3 separate regions of the Homo sapiens genome follow, and regions 1 and 2 are each reported to be linked to region 3. Evidence: microRNA targets listed by miRTarBase, many of them from high-throughput screens and not tested one by one. Region 3 holds a microRNA gene; each other region holds the end of a gene's coding sequence.
Evidence for each region. The annotated mature microRNA hsa-miR-6815-3p reads UGGCUUCUCUUGCACACCCAG and lies in region 3 at 2,701-2,721, opposite strand. An mRNA with a match to its seed (bases 2 to 7 or 8) in the 3' UTR can be bound and repressed. Matches are read on the target gene's strand: a 7mer-m8 pairs with bases 2 to 8, a 7mer-A1 pairs with bases 2 to 7 and ends in A, and an 8mer does both.

Region 1: the mRNA of DNAAF9 is a reported target of hsa-miR-6815-3p. Seed matches in the 3' UTR shown: 7mer-A1 at 2,087-2,093.
Region 2: the mRNA of LURAP1 is a reported target of hsa-miR-6815-3p. Seed matches in the 3' UTR shown: 7mer-m8 at 1,022-1,028.

What each region holds. Positions count from the first base shown.
Region 1 is chr20:3,246,030-3,253,221 of GRCh38, reverse strand. DNAAF9 (dynein axonemal assembly factor 9) reads left to right here. Exons shown (of 37, transcript NM_001009984.3): 37 at 538-3,916. The coding sequence ends at 650. Among named protein-coding and RNA genes, the nearest start is that of SLC4A11, 10 kb to the right of the region's middle. RefSeq lists enhancers at 2,439-2,939, 3,599-4,343, 4,344-5,089.
Region 2 is chr1:46,219,871-46,227,027 of GRCh38, forward strand. LURAP1 (leucine rich adaptor protein 1) reads left to right here. Exons shown (of 2, transcript NM_001013615.3): 2 at 1-1,386. The coding sequence ends at 350. It also overlaps a transcript of POMGNT1 not described here. Among named protein-coding and RNA genes, the nearest start is that of LURAP1, 20 kb to the left of the region's middle. RefSeq lists an enhancer at 1-60.
Region 3 is chr21:45,473,835-45,481,026 of GRCh38, reverse strand. It overlaps MIR6815 (microRNA 6815), which reads right to left and starts at 2,761; the gene lies at 2,701-2,761. It overlaps COL18A1 (collagen type XVIII alpha 1 chain), which reads right to left. Exons shown (of 42, transcript NM_001379500.1): 4 at 7,046-7,132; 5 at 5,492-5,551; 6 at 4,547-4,676; 7 at 3,540-3,616; 8 at 3,062-3,277; 9 at 2,674-2,700; 10 at 1,063-1,125; 11 at 871-957; 12 at 507-560; 13 at 169-327. RefSeq lists an enhancer at 5,679-6,179.

The DNA.
Region 1 (7,192 bases), not on the chromosome of region 3:
GATCCTCCCACCTCAGCCTCCTGAAGTGCTGGGATTACAGACATGAGCCACCGCGCCCAGCTTAGAGACTAGGTCTCGCCATGTTGCCCAGGCTGGTCTCAAACTCCTGGGCTCAAGTGATCCATCTACCTCAGCCTCCCAAATTGCTAGTATGGCAGGCATGAGCCACTGCGCCCAGCCTGTGAGTTATAGTTTGGATGCAGCTGCGGTGATATCCTGAAGTCTGTCGTCATCAGAGTCACGATTTACAAGTCGAAGACAGCCTAATTACAACAGTTAACCTGTGAAAAGATGGATAGGGCTGAAGCTGAAGGGCTCAGTTCTAGGACCTCATTAACATCCCTGTGACAACAGCCATTGCATTCTTTGTAGCTGTGGTGCTGCCAGTATATACAAAGAGTCCATCAGGTTCCCTCTCTATGGGCCAGACACTCACTTCCTCAGCAAACCCCCCTCACCTGCCTACAGGCCGCTCTGGGCTCAGGCAGCCTCCCTTGTCCTCCAGGCTCAGAGCTCTCTTCCTTAATGAGATACCAGTCATGGACCAGTTCATGAATGACTACGTGGAAGAAGCCAACCGGGAAATTGAGAAGTATAACCAGGAGCTGGAACAGCAGGAGTATCATGACCTCTTTGAGCTGAAGCCCTAGAGGAAGGCTGGGCCCGTACGTCCTGCAGAATGTCCACCTTGGAGATGGACGAACGGGTGTCTTAACCTCAGCTCTGCTGGAGGCCTCTCCCTTAAGGGGCTGTCTTTGTTCTCCTTGGCCTGTGTGGGCTGGCTTGAGTGCATGTTGTCTTTATTCCCTGTATAGCGCTGAAGAGCATCACCTGCACCATTGATTTTGGGGGTCGGGGGAATACTCAAGGATGAGCAGATGGGGCCTGCCCGTCTACGTGTGCAACTGGCAGTCCAGGAGCTCTGGGTTTCTGATAACAGGATCTCCTTTGGGCTCTTGAGGTTGGGGAGAAGCATTAGGATTACACAGAGGAGCTACTGGGACTTAGAAGGAACCCTGGCTGCCTGAACTGTGGCCGTGTCTGGGAGGCGAGGCCACGACAGGCCTCAAGCCTCAGATGCTGCTCCACGAGAGCCATCTTCCCCAGTGGAGTGCCTGCCTCCCCTGCTAGGCCCGTTTCCCTGAAGGAGCTGGCCGTACTGGCCGTGGGCCCAGTCCTGGGAGGAGCAGCACAGCCTTGCCCAGGCCCAGTCCACAGAGCCAGCAGCTTGGGTTGAGATGAATGATGTGTTCACAAATGAGGGGATTTCCCTTCTGGACTAAACTGAAGGAGAGGCTTGTTGCTTTCCAGAGGTGTGTGGCTCTTAAGTTGACATCAGCTTTTCCCCTTGTGGGTGGTTCTTTAGCTCTCCTGTCACACCATTCGGGTGTCCTAATGTAGGGACAAGAGCAAGCCTGCTGCTCAGGCCCCCTGGCGAGGCTTCACCTCACTGTGGAAGGGGGCGTCCTGCAGCTGGTTAGTCTTAGGCCTGGTGGCTGATCACTTGTGGGGTCAGTCTCCAGCACCCAGCGCTCCCACAAGCCTTGCCAAGGAAGGCCTGCTTTTCAGCCACAAACTTCAGGAAACTCATCCCCCCGCTCCCCAAAGTGTTGTTGCTGGCCCTGGGCTTGTGTGGCTCCTGAGGATTGGGAATTTCAAATAATTGCAATACCTGAGTTAGAATTCCTTCTAATGGCATCGTTTTAAGCTGGACCATAAAGCAGAGGGGAATTACAAGTGTGTCCCATGCCTGACCTTCATAATTGGTGTGGGGGACAGGGGAGTCACAGCCACTGATATTTAGGTGATGTCTCTTAGGACTTCAGTGCCTCAGCTGCCTGAACTGTAAATGTTTTCTGAATTTCACATATTTTTTTTTGCATGCCTTAGGAAGAAGCACATAGGTAAAACCAGCAGTTTCCAGTAATATAGGGGGTTTTTGAGCAAGGCCCCTGGAGCAGCGGAGAGACAAGATGGAGCACATGTAGTCTGTGTGCCTGGTCACACAGAGGCCTGCATGCAAGTAGCAAAGCAGCTCTCAAGGGCTTGTCAGTAAAATATATTAGAAAAAAAAAAAAAACAATTTGAAGCCAAATGAACAAAACTCCAGATACCATTGATAAGAAATTTTGCATCAAGAAGGGCTTCTGAAAAGACCCACGTGCTCCAGTCCCAGCTCCAAAAGCCACTGATGACAAGGGCCCCACTGTGGAACCTAAGTCTGGGAGCCCCCTGACTTCTGGCTGGCCAGAGGCTGCGGTCCGTCAAGGGCTTGCCTCGCTTCAGAATCAGTAACATAGATCTTAAGTGCAATTGATTAATAAGCAGTGAGTTACTGTAGCTTCCTTTAGCTCTACCGAACTCTTTTTAAAAACTCAAACTTGAGCAGCCTTAGAAAAGGGGTTGGGGGGTGGGAACCACAGGCCATTTCTCTAAGTGGGCTGCTGTGAAGTTTTAAATGAAAGCTCTAGCTTTAGGAGCTTGAGCCATTTCCTGACTGCACTGGCCTGGCAGTCTGGCTGCTGCAGAAGAGTTTTTAAAGAGGGGTCGGAGCCCGCCCGTGAGAGCGGGTCTTCTCACCATGTGGGGCTGTACTACGTGGTGGTCTTTGTTTCTCTTCACAGAAATGCTCTCTCACCAACTTGCCCCACTGTCCCAACTCCTCTCCTCTTAGAGAAAAAACTGTGATTACCTCAACTTGAATATGAAACTGTGATTGAAAAAAGTCAAAACGTGAAGAAGCATCAAAGCCAAAAAGGCAAAACTGGCTGAGGCCTCTGTTGATGCTCCTCAGCCTACTCGGGAACGTGAAGGGGCAGCTGGCGAAAGGGCATTCCTGGGGCCACTTGCTCTGCCCCACTGATAAGGCACACCCGCGGTGCACTGTGAGCTCTTTGAGGACTGAGGCCAGGGGATGCCTCCTGGAACCTGCCAGGCCTCTCTGTTCTGTGAAGGTCAGTATCCACTTGATTCCTCCAGGCGGCGCTCCAGGTGGGAGGAGCAGGGTCTTCTGCTGTTTCCAAAGGAATGGCCATGACACTGCTTTTGACCTTAGAAGTGGATCCAGGGACCCAGCAAAGAGCGGGGGTGGGTTCCCAGGGACAGGCAGTCCTCCCGGGGCTTACATGCTTTTTGCTAACTTTCCTATTAGCAGCTTCAGTTTATATCACCCAGAGTGCGTGGGATAATGTTGAAGTCGCTGAAGTTACGGGTTATTTTATGTTTTTACATGGGATTTTTCTGTTTTTGATTGGAAGAAGGAGACAGAAATTGGAGGAAATGGGATTATTATCCTAGGGAAGGGCCGTTGGCAAGGAGTTGAGCCGGCCCCTCTGAGCCCTGGGGGCTATCTGACCTGAAGCCTGGACACTGGGCCCTTCAGGTCGCAAGAAAAAGTTCCCTCCTAAATTCTATTAGGATTTTGGAGAATTTTTGCACAGTAAGAAGCTCTGGGTTGCTCCTTGGGCTTCTCAAAAGGGAAAAGTTCAATTCAAAGATTGTAAACTACGAAGTATTCCAGCCGTGTTGCTGATCTAGTTGGATAGTTGTACCTCAAAAAAGTAGGTGAGAACTGGCTTCCTCATTGTCCCAGGATGTCAAATACTAATGACATAAGAGCTCACTTACGTGCCAAAATTCACTTTTATACTAGTTTTTCAGTGCTTTAATATTTGTAACTTAAATTTTAAAACTCGTATTTACAAACACTACTGTAACTTCAGTGAAACTGAATTGTGCGATTGAAGCTTTTTGCTTATCATAGTATTTATTACACTACTTAATTCAGTAAATATATAAAAGTAGCCTTCAATTTATTTTTATATTATTTTACATGTTTTTACCTGCAGTTGTGTATGTGAATTTACCTTGGTAATCGAGATGTCATGCTAAGGACCAATAAACTATCACTGAACAAGCAAGGCCTCCAGACGATGCCTGTGCCATACACTCAGTCCCGTGTGCTCCTGGGGCGGGGGTGACGGGGGCCGGCCCTCAGCCTCCCCTGGACGCCTCTGGTGGGGATGCTGCGGGAAGTCCTCGGAGCTCACACTCCCTCCCTAGACGCCGGAGCAGCCCGTGGAGAGTAAGAATAAAATTCATCTGAAGAAACCACACTGGCTTGCGGGGTGGGAACTTGGGGAGTCCCAGAACTTGGGGAGGGGCTCAAGGAAGCCGGCTATGGGAACGGGGCTCTCCCGGCCCACCCGTGTCCCTCACCCTCGTCTTAGTCCGCCGTGCACGGGTGCCGGTTCTCGGCCCCAGCCTGCCGCGGCCGAGCTGTAGTAGGAACCACGCCTTTCCAGCCTGATGGGCGCGTTTCCGCGCAGTGAAAGCTTGGCGAGGTGGCTCCTCGGTCCTACTTTATACATGGGGACGACTGGAGGCGCTGACGGGTCAAGTAAGGGCCAGATTTGGCGCTGCGCGTTGGAACCGCAAGTTCTAACGGGGGGGTTTGCCGGAGCCCGCGGAGCTCTAGAGGAGCGACCAGAAAGGCATCAGCTGTCCCCGTGCAAGCTCGGGTTCCACTCGCCAGGCGGTTCCTGCCGCACGTGGCGCGGGCCTCCCACCTGACCACACCCCGGGCCCCCGCTGGCCGCGCAGGGAGGTGAGGAAAAGGGGCGCCCGCCGCCAGTCCATAGACACCCTGCTTCCTGTCAACCAGTCGCTGGGTGGGACAAGGGGAAATGCCCCACTGGGCAGATGTGGAAGCTGGCCCGGGGGAAAGGGTGTAGCCTCCGCAGATAGCTTCAGGTGATTGGGATGGTGGTCTTAGGTTTGGAAGTTCCTTGAGATAAATTAGTCCTGTGCAAACCAAATGCAAATCTGCACGGGAAGGGCCTGGTAGACTTGGGGGAGGGGGCTGGCGGCAGTGTTACCCTTTCACAACCTCTTCCCCAGAGCCTCCGGCATCCCCATCCTGCAGGCCGGGGTTTGAACTTTGATGGAGCGCCTGCGGTTGCATTACGGCAAAACCTCTAGGGTTTGGGGATTAACCCCTAGGAATTGCCAGAACGATGGGGAGACAGTAAATGGTGAAGGGCTCTCAGAGGGACTTAGAGGCCAGGAAACCTGAGGATGGGGAAAGGATCCCATCTTCCACCTGGAGCTCTCAGTAGGGACAGGGGACTACTGAAACCCTAGTGCTGCTTACCAGAGTGGGAGCCCCAGAGTCAGGGAATCCTGGCAGAGTCGATTGTGAAAAGTGATTTAGAGCAGATCTCATGTGGAGCTGCTGAAAATCAGAGAGCCCGCCAAGGAACACAGAGAAACACCAGTGTTAATCTCTATCCTACACTCTAGGGAAAAGTTATACCCAAAGAAGACATGACCATGTGACCCACTTCCAGCCCATGACAGAAAGAGATCAGCTTGGTTTCTGCAGGAGTCCAGACTAGTACCAGCTACAGGTCAGCCAGGCGCAGGCACTAGTATGTCATCAGAACCCTCTATCTTCGGTGGCTTCATTCTTCCCCTGCAGCAAGCTTCCCTTACACCACCAGCAGCACCAGGGTCCCATAGGCAAGGATCACATTCTCATCCCTGAATAATTACCATGGTCAGGAGGAATGGAGTTTTCTGATTAGCCTGGCCTTGGGTCTCCATACCAGGCCCATCTGAGAGGTGGGCCCCCCACAGAACGGCTTGCTCCCCTAAACCAGCATTACGCATCTCCCTGCAGTTTCTGAGCTTTTCTGATAAGTCAGACACCTACTTGATTTTTATTATTATTATTTTTTTTTTTGGATACAGTCTCGCTCTGTCGCCCAGGCTGGAGTGCAGCAGCGAGATCTCGGCTCACTGCAACCTCCACCCCCTGGGTTCAAGAGATTCTGCTGCCTCAGCCTCCCGGGTAGCTGGGATTATAGGCACATGCCACCACACCCAACTTTTTTTTTTTTTTTTTGTATTTTTACTAGAGGAGGGGTTTCACTATGTTGAGAAGGCTGGTCTTGAACTCCTGACTTCAAGTGATCCACCAGCCTTAGCCTCCCAAACTGCTGGGATTACAGGCATAAGCCACCACACCTGGCTTTTTTTTTTTTTTTTTTTTTTTTTTTTTTAAGACAGAGTCTCACTCTGTTGTCCAGGCTGGAGTGCAGTGGTGCAATTATAGCTCACTGCAGCCTCAACCTCCTGGGGCTCAGGTAATCTCCCATCTCAGCTTCTTGAGTAGCTAGGACTACATGCATGTGCCACCTCACCCAGCTAACCTACATTTTTTTTTTTAAACAGAGTCTCACTCTGTAGCCTAGGCTATAGATCACAGCTCACTGCAGCCTCAACCTCCCTGGGTTCAGGTCATCCTCCCCACTCAGCCTCCCGAATAGCTGGGACTCCAGGTGCACACCACTATGCTGGGCCAAATTTTGCATTTTTTGTAGAGATGTTATCTATGTTGCCCAGGCAGGTTTCAAACTCTTGGGCTCAAGTCATCCTCCTGCCTTGGCCTCCCAAAGTGCTATGTTACAGGAGTAAGCCACTGCACCCAGCCCATTGTTTGGTTTTATAGTGCCTCAGCACAACCCAGGGATACCAGTGATCATGGGATCCTGTCTGAGAATCTATTTTTCTTAAACAAAAGAAAGGTCAAAAAAAAGAAAAAAGAGAAAAAGACAGGTCATGTAGAGCCAGGCACGGTGCCTCACACCTGTAATCCCAGCACTTTGGGAGGCCAAGGCAGGCGCATCACTTGAGGTCAGGAGTTCTAGACCAGCCTGGCCAACATGGTGAAACCCTGTCTCTACTAAAAATACAAAAATTAGCCGGGCGTGGTGGCAGGTGCCTATAATCCTAGCTACTCGCGGGGGCCGAGGCAGGAGAATCACTTGAACCCGGGAGGCGGAGGTTGCAGTGAGGCGAGATCGTGCCATCACACTCCAGCCTGGGCGACAGAGCGAGGTTTCATCTCAAAAAAAAAAAAAAAAAAAAAAAAAACGCCGGAGGTGGTGGCTCACACCTGTAATCCCAGCACTTTGGGAGGCCAAGGTGGGTGGATCACGAGGTCAGGGGTTCAAGACCAGCCTGACCAACATGGTGAAACCCTGTCTCTACTAAAAATACAAAAATTAGCTGGGCGTGGTGGCGGGCACCTGTAATCCCAGCTCCTCAGGAGGCTGAGGCAGGAGAATTGCTTGAACCTGGGAGGTGGAGGTTGCAGTGAGCCTAGATGGTGCCACTGCCCTCCAGCCTG
Region 2 (7,157 bases), not on the chromosome of region 3:
GAGGCAGCTGGGACAGCCTGCCAGACACCAGCACCACCGACCGGCTGGACAGTGTCTCTATTGGCAGCTTCCTGGACACAGTGGCCCCCAGCGAGCTGGATGAACAGGGCCCACCTGGGGCTCCACGTTCCGAGATGGACTGGGCAAAAGTTATAGCTGGTGGAGAGAGGGCCAGGACTGAGGTGGATGTGGCAGCCACCAGGCTAGGGAGCTTGAGAGCTGTGTGGAAGCCCCCAGGGGAGAGGCTTCAAGGTGGACCACCTGAGTCACCAGAGGATGAGAGTGCCAAGCTGGGCTTCGAGGCCCACTGGTTCTGGGAGCAGTGCCAGGATGATGTGACCTTCTTGTAACAACTATTCCACCCTTTTGTAATCCTGTGGCTCTTTTATCCATTAGATGTGGTCTCCCCCAAAATTGATTCTCCCTCAGTCTGAGACTAGGAAGAGGCTGCACTGAAATCAGTTACCATGGAAACCTGGCTCATCATTTCTCTAGTCCCTAGGGAGTCTCTGCCTTTATCCCTCAATTATTGGGTCCCTAGAGCTAGCTTGCTCTTTCTTTCTTTCTTTCTTTTTTTGAGACAGGGTCTTATGCTGTTACCCAAGATAGAGAGCAGTGGCATGATCACAGCTCACTGCAGCCTTGACCTCCTGGGCTCAAGCGATCCTCCTATTTCAGCCTCCCCCATAGTTAGGACCACAGGCATGCACCACCATGCCCAGCTAATTGTTTATTTATTTATTTTTTTTTTGTAGAGATAGGGTTTCCCTGTGTTGCCCAGGCTGGTCTCAAACTCCTGGGCTCAAGGGATCCTCCCGCCTCAGCCTCCCAAAGTGCTGGGATTATGCCCAGCCCCTAGAGATACTTCTATAGAGATATTGACTCTAAAGGATTGACCTATGGCTTTTGGTATTTAGTATCTCTCACTACTCCCCCCAGCTAAGTAAGGATTTAAGGAATTTAGGACTCCCTGGAGTTAACAGATGAAGAGATGGGGGCATAATTACTTCACCCAAAGTCTAGAAGCCTTGGCCTCTCTCTTGGCCAAGATGGAGGATTGAGGAGGGACATGGACCTTCAGGACTAACCCTCTATGGATTGGCCCTCCCAGAAGCGTTTGGGCTGGTAGACCCACCCCTTCCTACCTGCTGAGTGATGTCATTTCCTGCCAGGATGGGTAGCCCTTTGTACGGGTCCTTGGATGGTAGTAGGTCATATAGGGGCATCTGAGCCCCTGCTGCTAAGTGAGATCACATTATTTATCGTCCATACCATTACTTCTTGTGAACAGTAACATGTCACTCCTCCTGGCAGGAAAGTTTCTCATTGTCAGATGTTTGTGCTTCTTTTCAGGTCTTACTTTTTAAATAGAGTGTTCTCATTTTATCCTAGGGGATCTCACTTCCTCTGTGGCTCCATCCCTGCATCCCTGTCTGGGCCAGCACTCCTGACTGCTTTTAGGGAGAGAAGCTTTCAGGGGCCTCCATTTATTTCTCTCAAGTCTGTTTGGCTCACCCTGCCATGGTCCCCTGTCTTACCCTGTCCCTGTGTTGCCCCTATTCCTGTATTCCATTTTTTTGTTTTGTTTTGTTGTTTTTTTTGAGATAGGGTGACAGGGTCTCCCTCTGTTGCCCAGGCTGGAGTGCAGTAGTGCTCACTGCAGGCTCGACCTCCTGGACTCAAATGATCCTCCTTCCTCAGCCTCCCAAGGAGCTAAGACTACAGGCATGCATCACCATGCCTGGCTAATTTTTGTATTTTTTTCCAGAGACAGGGTTTCACCATGTTGCCTAGGGTGCACTTGAACTCCTGGGCTCAAGCAGTCCTTCCGCCTCAGCCTCTTAAATTACTGAGATTACAGGCATGAGCTGCTGTGTCTGGCCCTATTCCTGTATTCTGACTCCATATCTCCCTTCCAGGAGGTTCAGCTTCTGTGTGTCCATGCCTTTTCAGTTTCTCCAGGCCTTTTATATGCAAATGAGTCCTGGCCTCCTCTGCCCTTTGTTGATGGGAGCCAGGGAGAGAGAACCTCAAGGTCTCAGAGCTCTGGGGGTGTACCAGAATCTTGGATAGGGGAGGTGTCATCCTTTCTGACTTTGTGACTGCCCTTCCCCCACCCTGTCCCCAGCCTTCCACCATTTGGTCACAAGGATGCCTGCCTGAGGTCGGGACACAAGGAATCTCCTTGTCTAGGCTGCAGCGTGGGGGCGTGGCAGGGAAAGACAGAAGCTCTTTGGTCCCGGGGCCCCATCCTGGAAAAGGAGAGGGAGCAAGGGAAAGGCCTGTTTACTTCCTCCCTTAGAGCAAGCCCTGACTCCCGGAAACTGAGGAGAGAGCAGAGCCTGGGTCTCTGAGCCTGGGTCCCAGAGCCCTGCCGAATTACAAATTATATCATAGAAGGAATTCAGGGAAGCTGCCAACCTGGGGCTCAGAGGGGACGGTCCCAGAGATGGGGACAAGAGCTGTGGCTGGTGTCAGAGAATGAATTCTTAGAGATTAACCCTTTGAACTCTGGGGTAACTGCTCCATATGTTAGTCCCTGCCTTTCCTGGGCCTTGAAACTGGGATACTAGAAGGAAAAAGATGGAAAAGGATGTCAGATGACTTTGGCTGTTCACTGCATCCTCCTGCAAAAGAGGCGTCCTCCTCAAATCCTGGAATAACTCGTGCCATTTCTCTATTTTGTATTCTGTGTTGGGGAAGGGAAGGAAGCCAAATTGATCATCTCTGCTTCCCTAAATTCCTCAAGTCTCATTTTGAAACTCCCACCCCGGTCCTTCTGGAGCAATATTCAGTCCATGGCTTGTCCCTAAACACCCTCTCTTCCCCTCCCACCCCCTCAAATGATTGAAATGTCCAAAGTATATTCTCAGCTTCTTCCACTGCTCACAAGACCTCTCCATACCACTCCTATGGTCTTGGGACTCCTGACTTCCCCTCAGACTGGGAATTTGAATCTCCTATTCCAGTCCCTACTCTGTAGTCATTTTGTAGTGTGCCCTCGGTTAATTACCCTTCCTGTTTTTTTTTGTTTGTTTGTTTTGTTTTGTGTTTTGTTTTGTTTTTGAGATGGAGTCTCGCTCTGTCATCCACGCTGGAGTGCAGTGACGCGATCTCGGCTCACTGCAACCTCTGCCTTCCGGGTTCAAGCGATTCTCCTGTCTCAGCCTCCTAAATGGCTGGTATTACAGACGTGCACCACCATGCCTGGCTAATTTTTGTATTTTTAGTAGAGACGAGGTTTTGCCATGTTGACCAGGTTGGTCTTGAACTCCTGACCTCAAGTGATCCGCCCATCTCAGCCTTCCAAAGTGCTGGGATTACAGGTGTGAGCCACCTGCCTGGCCTGTTGTTTTATTTTTAAGACAGGGTCTCACTCTGTCGCCCAGGCGGGAGCGCAGTGGTGCGATCTCGGGTCACTGCAGCCTCTGCCTACTGGGCTGAAGTGATCCTCCTCAGCCTCCTAAGTAGCTGCGACTACAGGCACGCATCACCATGCCCGGGTTACTTTTTGTATTTTTTCTAGAGACAGGGTTTTGTCATGTTGCCTAGGCTGGTCTCAAACTCCTGGGCTCAAACAATCCTCCCACCTCAGCGTCCCAAAGTGCTGAGATTACAGGCCTGAGCCACCATGCCCAGCCTTTATTTCTTTTTTTTTTCTCTTCAGCAACATTGTTCATGGAATTATACCCTTCTTGGAAGACACTGTATAGTATTCTTATTTGAGGTTCACTTGTTCAGTCTACACACTTATGAGCTGAAGAGGTTGCCCGCCCTCTTGTGGCCATTATGCACCACTGCTGGAGTTGCTGTGTGGAACCTCCAAGCTCAAATAAAACATGGCCTTCTAAAGACCAGCCCCCGTCAGTGCGCAGAAAGGCTAGTGAGTCAGACCTAAAGAGGGCATAGACTTGCCCAGCATCACCCATTGTAAAGTTGTGGCGACGTCCAGGTCAGAAAACCCAGATCACAAGCCCACATGCCCACAGCTCCATCACCTGGCCAGTCAACACCACTGAAGCCCAAAGGGACTGAAAGCAATTTTGCCCCTGTTACAATGTTTGCGTTCTCACCTCTTCCTAAAGAGGCAGCTTAGTCTTTAGAGGAAGAGCTGCAGGAAAGAAAACCCTGGGCCTGGACTGGATGAAGGGGTGAAGGATGCACTAGTCTGGATCACAGATAGGAGGAAAAATCAATCCTGGACCCACCATTTTTCTGGGAAGGAGGGCTAGTAGCTCCAGACATCATAGGAACAGAGCTCAGCATTTCAGACCTGGAGGTTAGAAGCAGAGGTGGGGGTGGGGAGCTGTGAAATTAGGAAACTTAGATGGGTCTTGCAGAAGTAGGTGTGGCTCCACAGGTCAGGGAATTACGGGTCAATTGGATAGCACCTGAGAGTGTTGTGGGGCTGGAAAGCTGGGGTGAGTGAGGCTGCCTGGGTATTCCGCTTAGGTCTAGGCATCCTGGCTGAATACCTTAGATTTCAGTTCACCACCAGAGAAGCCCGGAAACTCCAGTAAACACATATCTTTGGTCCCTTCTACCTGCCTCTAACTTGGCTGGTTGAGGCTCAGCTTCTCTCTAACTAGACTTTTCTGGCTTATAGGGTACAGCTGTTTGGGAGCTCAAAGAAGGAGAAGGTAAGAAAAAGGGCAGAAATGCAGAGAGAGGAGAGGATGGGATGAAAACGGGGTGTGGAAAATATCAGAGGGCGCATACTGCCCTCAAGTGCACTGGGGGCTTTTGTCCGGGGTCAGAGTAAAGACAAAGAAGAGGCTGCTCATGAAAGCTGCAGAAACAGTGCCTGGGGGGATAAGCGGGGGCGGTGCTGGCTGAGACAAGAGACCATGGGAGTGGGCATTGTAAAGACCTGCATTTATTTATTTTATTTATTTATTTATTTATTTTGAGACAGGGTCTCACTCTGTCGCCCAGACTGGAGCGCAGTGGCATGATCTCGGCTCACCGCAACCTCCGCCTACCAGGCTCGAGCGATTCTCCTGCCTCAGCCTCCTGAGTGGCTGGGACTACAGGCACACGCCACTACCACCCAGCTAATTTCTGTATTTCTAGTAGAGATGGGGTTTCACCATGTTGGCCAGGCTGGTCTCAAACTCCTAACCTCAAGTGATTCACTCGCCTCGGTCTCTCAAAGTGCTAGGATTACAGGCTTGAGCCACCATGCCCGGCTGAGGCCTGCATTTAGGATGGAGGCATTGAGGTTGAGCACTGAGCTAACTGGAAGCTCAGTGACAGCTTCAGTGAGAAATGCTTGAGAGTTGTAGCAGACACAAGCTCATTGTGTGTATGGTGCCAGGCACACACTGGGTGTTCCGTGACACCTGTTCAGTGAATGGAAGAATGAATATGTGTAAGCCCACAAGGAGATGTGACTGAAAAAAAAAGTTGCTAATTTACAAATTAGATAATTGAAAATATTTTTAAATTTACTTTTTAGCAATCCTATAAACAGTGCATTGTTAACAATAGTCTTACTTATAAATTTGCTCAAGGTCAGTTAAGTAACAAATGAGCTGTAATAACCCAGATCAACCTGACTGCAGGGGCTTCCAGGAAGCCTCCTCTGATTCCCTACCCATGCCATACACTCACTTAGACCCTACTCTCCTAGGAGAACAGATTAGTGCTGCCCAGAAGCTGGGGCAGGACATTAGTTTCCTATTGTCACTGTAATGAATTACCACAAAGTGGCTCAAAAAACAAAATTATTATGTTACAGTTCAGAAGTCCAAAATCAGCTTCACCAGGCTAAAGTCAAAGTGTTGACAGGTCTACACTCCTTCCGTGGGCTCCAGGGAAGAATGTTTCCTTGCTTTTTCCAGCTTCTAGATGCTGCTTGCAGTGCTTGATTCGTGGCTCTTTTCACCATCTTCAAAGCCAGCAGCAGAGCATCTTCTCTCCTCTCTAACCTCTGTTTCCATCCCTACATCTCTCTAATTCTACTGCCTCTCACTTGTAAGGATTACATTGGGTCTACTGGGATAATTCAGTATCATCTTCCCATTGGCAAGATCCTTAATTAAATCCTGCCTTCAAAGTCCCTTTTACCATTTAAGATAAAATGTTCACAGGTTAAGCAGCTGGTGAGTGTCTGTAGTCCCAGCTACTCAGGGGGCTGAGGCTGGAGGATCACTTGAGCCCAGGAGTTCAGGCCAGCCTGGGCAATATAGTAAGACTCTTCTCTTAAAAGAAAATTTATATTTATCCTCAGGTCCTGGGGATTAGGAATTGGACATCTTTGGGAGAGGGGCTTTTAGCCTGACACAGGCAGGGTGGAAAGTGGGCAGGAGGATGCACCCAGGCCCAGAATGAACCTCTGTGCTTTGTCCAGCCTCCCCTAGCCTGGAATGAGAGGTGGTACCAAGGCGGAGGTGGCAGGTCCAGACCCCATGTCTAGAGAATGTCAAATGCCTCCTGTACCATCACCACCAGGGAGAGCCAAAGATGAAGATCAGGCTTAGGAGAAAGCCTCAGTTTAGGAATCGTTTTAGACCTGAGACCTTCCTGGTAACCACAGTGGAGGATTCCTCAACACTGTCTCCTCTCCAGAACCATTCTGTGCTCCTATTCCCCAAGGCTGAAGATAATTATATTCCCAGTGAACTAACCTGGGTTCTCTCTGGAAAGGGCAGATTGATTAGTTGTCTTCTTTTTAAATTGTTATTTTTAATTATTTAATAGTTAAACCATGCTTCTCATAGCATAGTGAATTCCATCACCAGGCCCCTTTCTTATTTTATTTTCTTCTTTTTTAAAAAAATTTTAGACTGGGCACGGTGGCTCATGCCTGTAATCCCAGCACTTTGGGAGGCCGAGGAAGGTGGATCACCTGAGGTCGGGAGTTCGAGACCAGCCTGGCCAACATGGTGAAACCCCATCTCTACTAAAAATACAAAAATTATCTGGGCATGGTGGCGCATGCCTGTAGTCCCAGCTGCTCAGGAGGCTGAGGCAAGAGAATTGCTTGAACCCAGGAGGCAGAGGTTGCAGTGAACCGAGATCATGCCACTGCACTCCAGCCTGGGCGACAGAGCGAGACTCCGTGTCAAAAAAAAAAATTATTATTTTTTTAAGAGACTGGGTCTCACTGTCACCCAGGCTGGAGGACAGTGATGTGATCTTGGCTCACTGTAACT
Region 3 (7,192 bases):
CCCAGGGTGGCCCCGAGTCAGCAACTGCCCGCCAGCTCCTAGAGGAGATGAGGTGAGGAGGCGGGGACTGGGGAGGCCTGAGGCGGGGCAGGGGCTCCCATGTGGGGTGTTCACCCCTCACTCCCAGCAGACAGGGCTCCCGACACTGACGGTGGAGGCAGGACTTACCGGGAGGCCAGGAAACCCGGGGGGACCCTCGCGCCCAGGCACACCAGGAAGGCCGGCGGGTCCTGGGACGTCGGAGCTGTTCACCCCAAAGCGGCCTGGCTCGCCGGGCAGGCCTGGGACACCGGGGGGTCCGGGAGGTCCAGGGAAGCCTCGAGGACCCTGGACGTGGGCGAACACAGATAGTCACAGCCCATGTGGCACCCACCAGGGATGACCACCACCCCCAGAACGGGCCTCATCCCCACCCCCCACAGGACCCCAGCTGAATCTTGGGGGTCCATGGCCTGTTCCTCATGGGCACAGACATCGGGCAGCGCTGCAGTTTAAGGGCCACTCACCCGCAGGGCCTCCAGATCGCCCCCGAAGCCAGATCCCTCCATGTCAATGAAGGTCTGAGGAAAAGAGCCGGAGAGACACGTTGCCCTGAGCTCGGCCCCCCGCCTGGCCTACTCCTGGCCCCTGCCCCGCAAGCTGCATATCGAGCTGTTTCTACAAGGAGCTGAGAAACCACGGCCCCTCTGCTGCCCCCAGAGAAGCCTGAAGGCAGGTGGATGGGGGCTCCCACCACACCTGTGACCCCTCAGCTCAGCCAAGACCCCACGCAAGCCCCTGAGGGTGGAGCTGATACTTCTGGGCCAGAGGCAGTGCCTGCTTTTGAGGAGGGCAGACCCCGGGTCGCAGGAAGCCAAGGGCGGGACTTACCAGCTTGTCGTGTCTGAAGGAGGGTCCTGGGGGCCCTGGAGGCCCTTGGGGTCCTGGGGGCCCTCTCTCTCCAACCCCAGGGTCTCCCTGGGAACACAAGACAAGCCTATCATACCCTGGGCACGCACACAGCCCCCACCTTGAGCCAAGGGCCAACACAGGAAGGGGCCCCACCCAGCCACGGAGACTCACCTTGTCGCCCTTGGGACCTACGTCCCCTGGAGTCCCGGGGAAGCCTTGTGGCCCGGTGTCGCCCTGGAACACAACATCCGGGGGCCCGGTCAGGGAAGGCACCACCATGGGCCGCACCCAGCACTCTCAGTGCTCCTCCCCCAAGCAGGGGACGGACGGGAGCTGAGCCCTTCAGGGGAGTCTCTGGGGCCCGGAAAGTACGAGGGCGCCAGGCCCAGCAGACTGTCTCCCGCCTGAGCCCATTTCGCCAGCCACGCCTGGGGGAAGCTGCGGGCAGCATCCCTCGGGAGGTCACAGCAGGTTCCCCGAAGGCCTCCACAACAGCTGGTGCTTGGGTGTTACATACATGTGTGTGTGTGTGTGGTATGCATGGTGTGTGTGTGAGGAGTGTGGTGTGTACATGTGTGATATGTATGTGTGATGTGTGAGTGTGCATGTATGGTGTGCATAATCCATGGTGTGCACATGTGTGCACACGTGGTATGTGTATGTGTGTATCCACGTGTGGTATGTGTAATGTGTGGTGTGTGTGCATGTGTCCACGTGTGATGTGTGCACGTGCGTGTAGCATGTGTGCATGCGTCCACCTGTGGTGTGTGTGCACACACGTGTGTGTAGTGTGTGTATGCAAGTGTATCCACGTGTGGTGTAATGTGTGGTGTGTGCACACATGTGTGTAATGTGTGTGCATGTGTCCACGTGTGGTGTGTAATGTGTGGTGTGTGATATGTGCTGTGTGTGCATGTGTGGTATGTGTACGTGTGGATCCTCACCCCCCCACACACACGCGCAGTCACACATTCACACACTCAAACACATGCACATACATACACACGTGTGTGTGCCCTGTGGGTGGGCCCCGTGGATCATCACCCCACACTCACACGCGTGCGTGTACCCTGTTGCAGTGGGTGGGCCCCGTGCCGCCCCCCAGCCGACTGTCCTTTGTCTGCCGTGGTCCTCATCGCAGGCAGCTTGGCTGTGGGGTGCCAGGCGGTCGGTAATGACCGTTCGGTGGGCACCATGAGATGCCCTCCCTGTCCTTTCAGACCTTCTAGACTGTTTTTAACTTGAACCCTCCTGTCCAGCGTTCGTGACGGCCCCACTTTCTGCCGAGTGTTACCATTTGCTGGGCAGGCTGTTCCCAGGTCTTTATTCGCAGTCGATCACGTCATTACTGTGCTTGGAAACGGTGTTTGCTGATTTTTAAAGACTGAACTGCGTGTTTTGCGACGAAGCTCGGACTTCACAGAGTCTCAGGTCGCCCCGTGCTTCCCTCCCCCGCCGACTTGCACCACCCCCTGCCCCGCCCGACTTCCTTTTTCTTTGCTGTGCGTCTTCCCTCTAAGGGTTTGGAAGCTCTGCCTTTTCTCACTTCCTTTCCTTCTTCATGGTAGTTGTGGCCCAAATGTCTCAACACAAATGCATAACTGCTATTTCCCATCAACAGTTACACTCATCTTTTCTTTACAAAATTCCACTTTCAAAATGGTTTTGCTGTACAGTCTCCTCACTGGGTCGCGTTTAAAAAGAGTGTCACTGGCAACAAAGCCCTGGGGTCTAAGCAAACATCACAGATAACACAGGGGTCAGAAAGAAAAGCAGACTCACCGGCTTTCCGTCTTCACCGGGGTCGCCCTGGGTGTGCAAGAGAAGCCATTAGTGATGGGAAATGACTCCTCCGGCGCCACCTACAGTGTCTACATGGAAATGCACCCCACGCTCCAAGTCCCCACGAGGCGGCAGACGCCTTCCCCCGATGTCCTCGCACCCGCGCCAGGAGCCTCCTCACACCCACAAGGGCTGTGTCTGAGCAGCTCCGCCTCCCACGTCTGACCACCTTCCAGCACCAACCCCGAGCAACGGTGGGCCTAAGGAGGCTGCTGACCTGCCCCGATCCCAGCTCAGCTCACTCCCATGTCGGCCGCAGCCTCTCCCCCTCCTACCCAAGCCCCCACCCTCCAGACCGGGCCGGACTCGGGGGGACGTGAGGACTCACCGGCTCGCCGTCCCTTCCAGGGGTGCCGTCCCTCCCCGGAGGCCCTGGGGGTCCTTGTGGTCCGGGGACAGTTTGCAACGCTGGGCCTGCAGGACCCAGGGGACTCACTGGGCACGGGAGACCCGGGGGACCAGGTAGGCATGGGGATCCTGGGGGGCCTGCCCGGCCAGGTGGGCCCGGAACACCTGGCTCCCCTTTCTGCCCCTTCAGGCCGCCCTGGGAATAAACAGAACACAGGGCTCGGGCTGGGGTGGGGCCCCACACACCCTGCCCACGTGTCCCGCTGCGCCCTCCAGAGTCCCAGGCTGGGCTGCTTCCCACAGTGGACACGCAGGGTGGACGCATGCTGGCACCGAGTGCTGGGCACAAAGGAGGCACGGGCACAGAGGGGCTTCATCAGGGCTCACCAGTGAGTGGCCCAAAAGGCCACAGGTGCTCTGGTTCAGAATGGTTCAGGAGCACAGGGAGGTGGCCTTACCTCTTTCACGCGGCCCCCAGGGGTCCGGACACTCCCGTCCCACGTGGAGACAGAATCTGAGCCAGGAAGTGTCTGAGCTGGGAAGAGAAGCAGAGGTGGCCACGGTCACGCCCCCCGGGTGGCCCCAGCTCTGCTCTCGGCACCCCAGACGGCCCCGGCAGCCCAAACGCTTTCAGTCCTGGAGCCCGGCTGGACACTGTCAGATCCCCAGCCTCAGGCCGCACTCCCCTGAGCTCCAGCTCCCAGGCAAAGGCAACAGGGAGACAGAATTTAAAATCAACAGTGAGGCCGGTGTGGCCATCTAAGCCAATGACAGCTGAAGTCTGGGAGATGCTTCCTGAATTTGTTACAAGAGACCCTGGCCCCCCAGAATGCCTTCTTATCACCCAGCATGCTTTGTCCCTTTTCCTTTTTCCCTCTTAACTTTTACTTAAAATAAAAATGAAAACCAACAGAAATCCTGCAAGAGAAGCACAGTGAACACCCAGAGCCTGTACCCAGAGCCACCATCCGGGCCTCGGCATCTCCCCACCTGCCACACACACACACACACACACACACACACAAAACACATAATACACATCACACACATGTACATTACACATGCACATCACACACATACACACAATACGCACACTACACATCACATACAACACAACATGCACTGCACACCACACACGTACACTACACGCAACACACACACCACACCACACACAATACACACACCACACACTGCACACACACATGCCCACATGCATGCACCATACACACTACATACACATCACATAAACATCACACATGTCACAAACATGCACATCACACACCACACATCAAACACCTGCCATATATTTCACACAAACACGTGCCATATCACACACACATGTACCATATACACCACACACTACACACACCATACATCACACACATACCTCACCATCACACAAACACACGTTACACACCACACACACCCCACACCACACACACACCACATCCAGAAAAGAGCTTACCTCCTAACGAAGCCACCGTGGTCTGCTCCTCGACTTCTTCACTTCTGGAATCTTCCGTGCTGCTGCCTCCAGCCAAGGGTGGCGTGGTGACGGGGGGTGGCGCGGGGAGCCTGGGTTTTAGGGCCGCGCCCTGGAGGACGAGAGGGGAGGTGGCCTGTTATTCGGCCGGCAGATGCCCGGTGGAGACTTGCTTGGTTTGTGAAATGAAATACTTAAGATCGCAAGAAAGATAAAGAAAAATCCTCTGAAACAGGAGGGTGCTCCAGGGCCGTGCGCGAGGGGCTTCCTTCCGTGGGCCGCAGGGGTGTGGCCGCCTGTGGGCTCCCCGGCTCCCCAGGACCCAGGACCGCGCCTGCCGTCACCACAGAGGCCTCCCGGCGCCCGACAGGCCATGCTGGGAAGCTGATGTGAATCTGCAGAGGGTCCCCGCAGGGAACACGTTCCCGCACCCGTCTCTCACGGACAGCACCGCGCCTCAGTCCCGCGGCTGGGGCCTCCCCACTCCCCGCCCCTCCTGTGTTTTCTCAGGTGGCCCGAGCTGGGGAAAGCCTTCCGCGCGCTCCCTGCGCCGCCTTCTCCTCCTGGTCGTCAGGCTCACACACGCGTTCATTCCCTGATGGCCACGCACGAGCTAACGGAGGGATGGGGCGAAGGGAAGGCCAAGGTTGCCTCGAAGACCAAGGAGTGTGCAGGGCAGGACCTCGTTTTAAAGGAATATCCTCTCACCAGAGACACGCGGCGGCCAGGCAGGGCCGGAGCGGGGCCTGTGCCCAGGCTCCGAGCGTCTGCCCAGCCCAGCATCCCTGTCCCCAGCCAGGAATATGTCTTCGTGGCATAGAGGGAGCTCTTGGAGCCACACCTGCGTGTGCACATGTGTCACCCCACTGCTGGGAGGGGCTCTCCCGGGACCCTGCAGCGTGGGCTGGGCCCCGTCCGGCTACTCACCGTCTCCTCCCTGAGAAGCTCCCGGGCGTCCCCGAGCCCGCTGCCAGAGTCTCCGGATGCCTGAGGAGTTTGAAAAGGGAAAGGCTGGAGAGATGGCAGCCAGGCCAGGCCCCGAGCCCGGCAGGCCTGGGAAGCAAAGGACGCTGCTCTCGCCTCCTCCAGGCCCCCTCTCGCCTCGTCCAGCCCTCTCTGGTGCTCTCCGGGGGGCCGCTGGGGTGGGCACGCTGGCCTTCCCTGCCCAGGCACCATCTGAGCTTCAGTAAGTCGTGTCCAATCGGGTCGAGGACAGTGACGCTTCTGAACCTGCCTCGGCCGGTGGTCAGACATGCGGAGGCGGGAGGGGGAACGCGCTCCTCTCTTCTGGCCAGAGCCCTGCCCTGGAGGAGGCCGCACCGCAGATGCTCCCCGCACAGGTTTCCCCAGCGCACGCCCGGCTGGGCCGAACACGCGCCAAGGCGGCTGGATGTTTTAAACTTCAGGAAAACCCGGAGGAGAAACATCCTCAGGGACCGCTACTGACCCCTGAGGGCAAGACAGGCCAGGGGAGGGGTGCGGCGCCTCGGCGACCCCCCGCACCCAGCAAGCTGTCCCAGGGCGCAGCCTTGTCATGGCCGCCATGTGAACGATCTGGCGTCTTCTGGCATGTTCCAGGCAAAAACAACGGGCTTATTGGGCAAAATAAAGAAAAAGCATGAAAGTAACATGGATGTTCACACACTGCCCACAGTCCAGCCACGGTGTCTCCTGCCCACGCCCCCAGGAGCGAGGCTGTGGGTCCACGTCCACGGCGTCTCCTGCCCACGCCCCCAGGAGCGAGGCTGTGGGTCCATGTTCACGTGGGGCATGTTGTGATCTGGGCCCCTGAGTGAGAATTCCCTGCTGTTCCTCACACCTGGGGCTGGGGGATTCTCCCCTTGGGTACCACGTGATTCCACACACCCCACCAACACACACGCCACACAACACACAGACACAGACACAGAGACACACGCACCATGCAGACATGCAGACACAACACACAAGACAGACACACCACAGAGACACACCACACACACAGAGACACACCACACACAGAGACACACTACACACAGAGACACACCACAGACACACACGACACACAAGACAGACACACCAGAGACACACATACAACACACACAACACACAAGACAGACACACCACACAGACACACACACATCCACACACAACACACAAGACAGACACACCACAGAGACACACCACACAAGACACAGAGACACACCACACAGACACAGACACACACACACACTTTGCTGAGCTGCCTCACATCCTCTGTCTCACCAGCTGCCATGGAGGGTGGTTTCTGGTGTTTATATCATGCTTTGTATTTGTTTTTATGGGAAAGTTCAGGGCAAGGAAGGGCTCTGAGGTGCTACAGGAGAGCACAGAAATGGTATCGCAGCTTCCCAGTGCCCCAAGTGGTATATTTTGGGACTTTTCCTGTCATAGACCTTGGCCCTGAACTCCGCGTGCCAGGGATTGAGGGGAGACCCCACCCGTGCCCCAGATGTCACTCACCCCATCTGAGTCATCGCCTTCCTCGTCCAGGCAGTGCATGGGGCTCACCTGGGGGTCCCTGCGCACCTTCAGCTCAGCGATCACCCCCTAAATGCAGACAGAGAAAGGGGTCACCAGCGGTCCTGAGGTGGCAGTGGCAACCCCGGT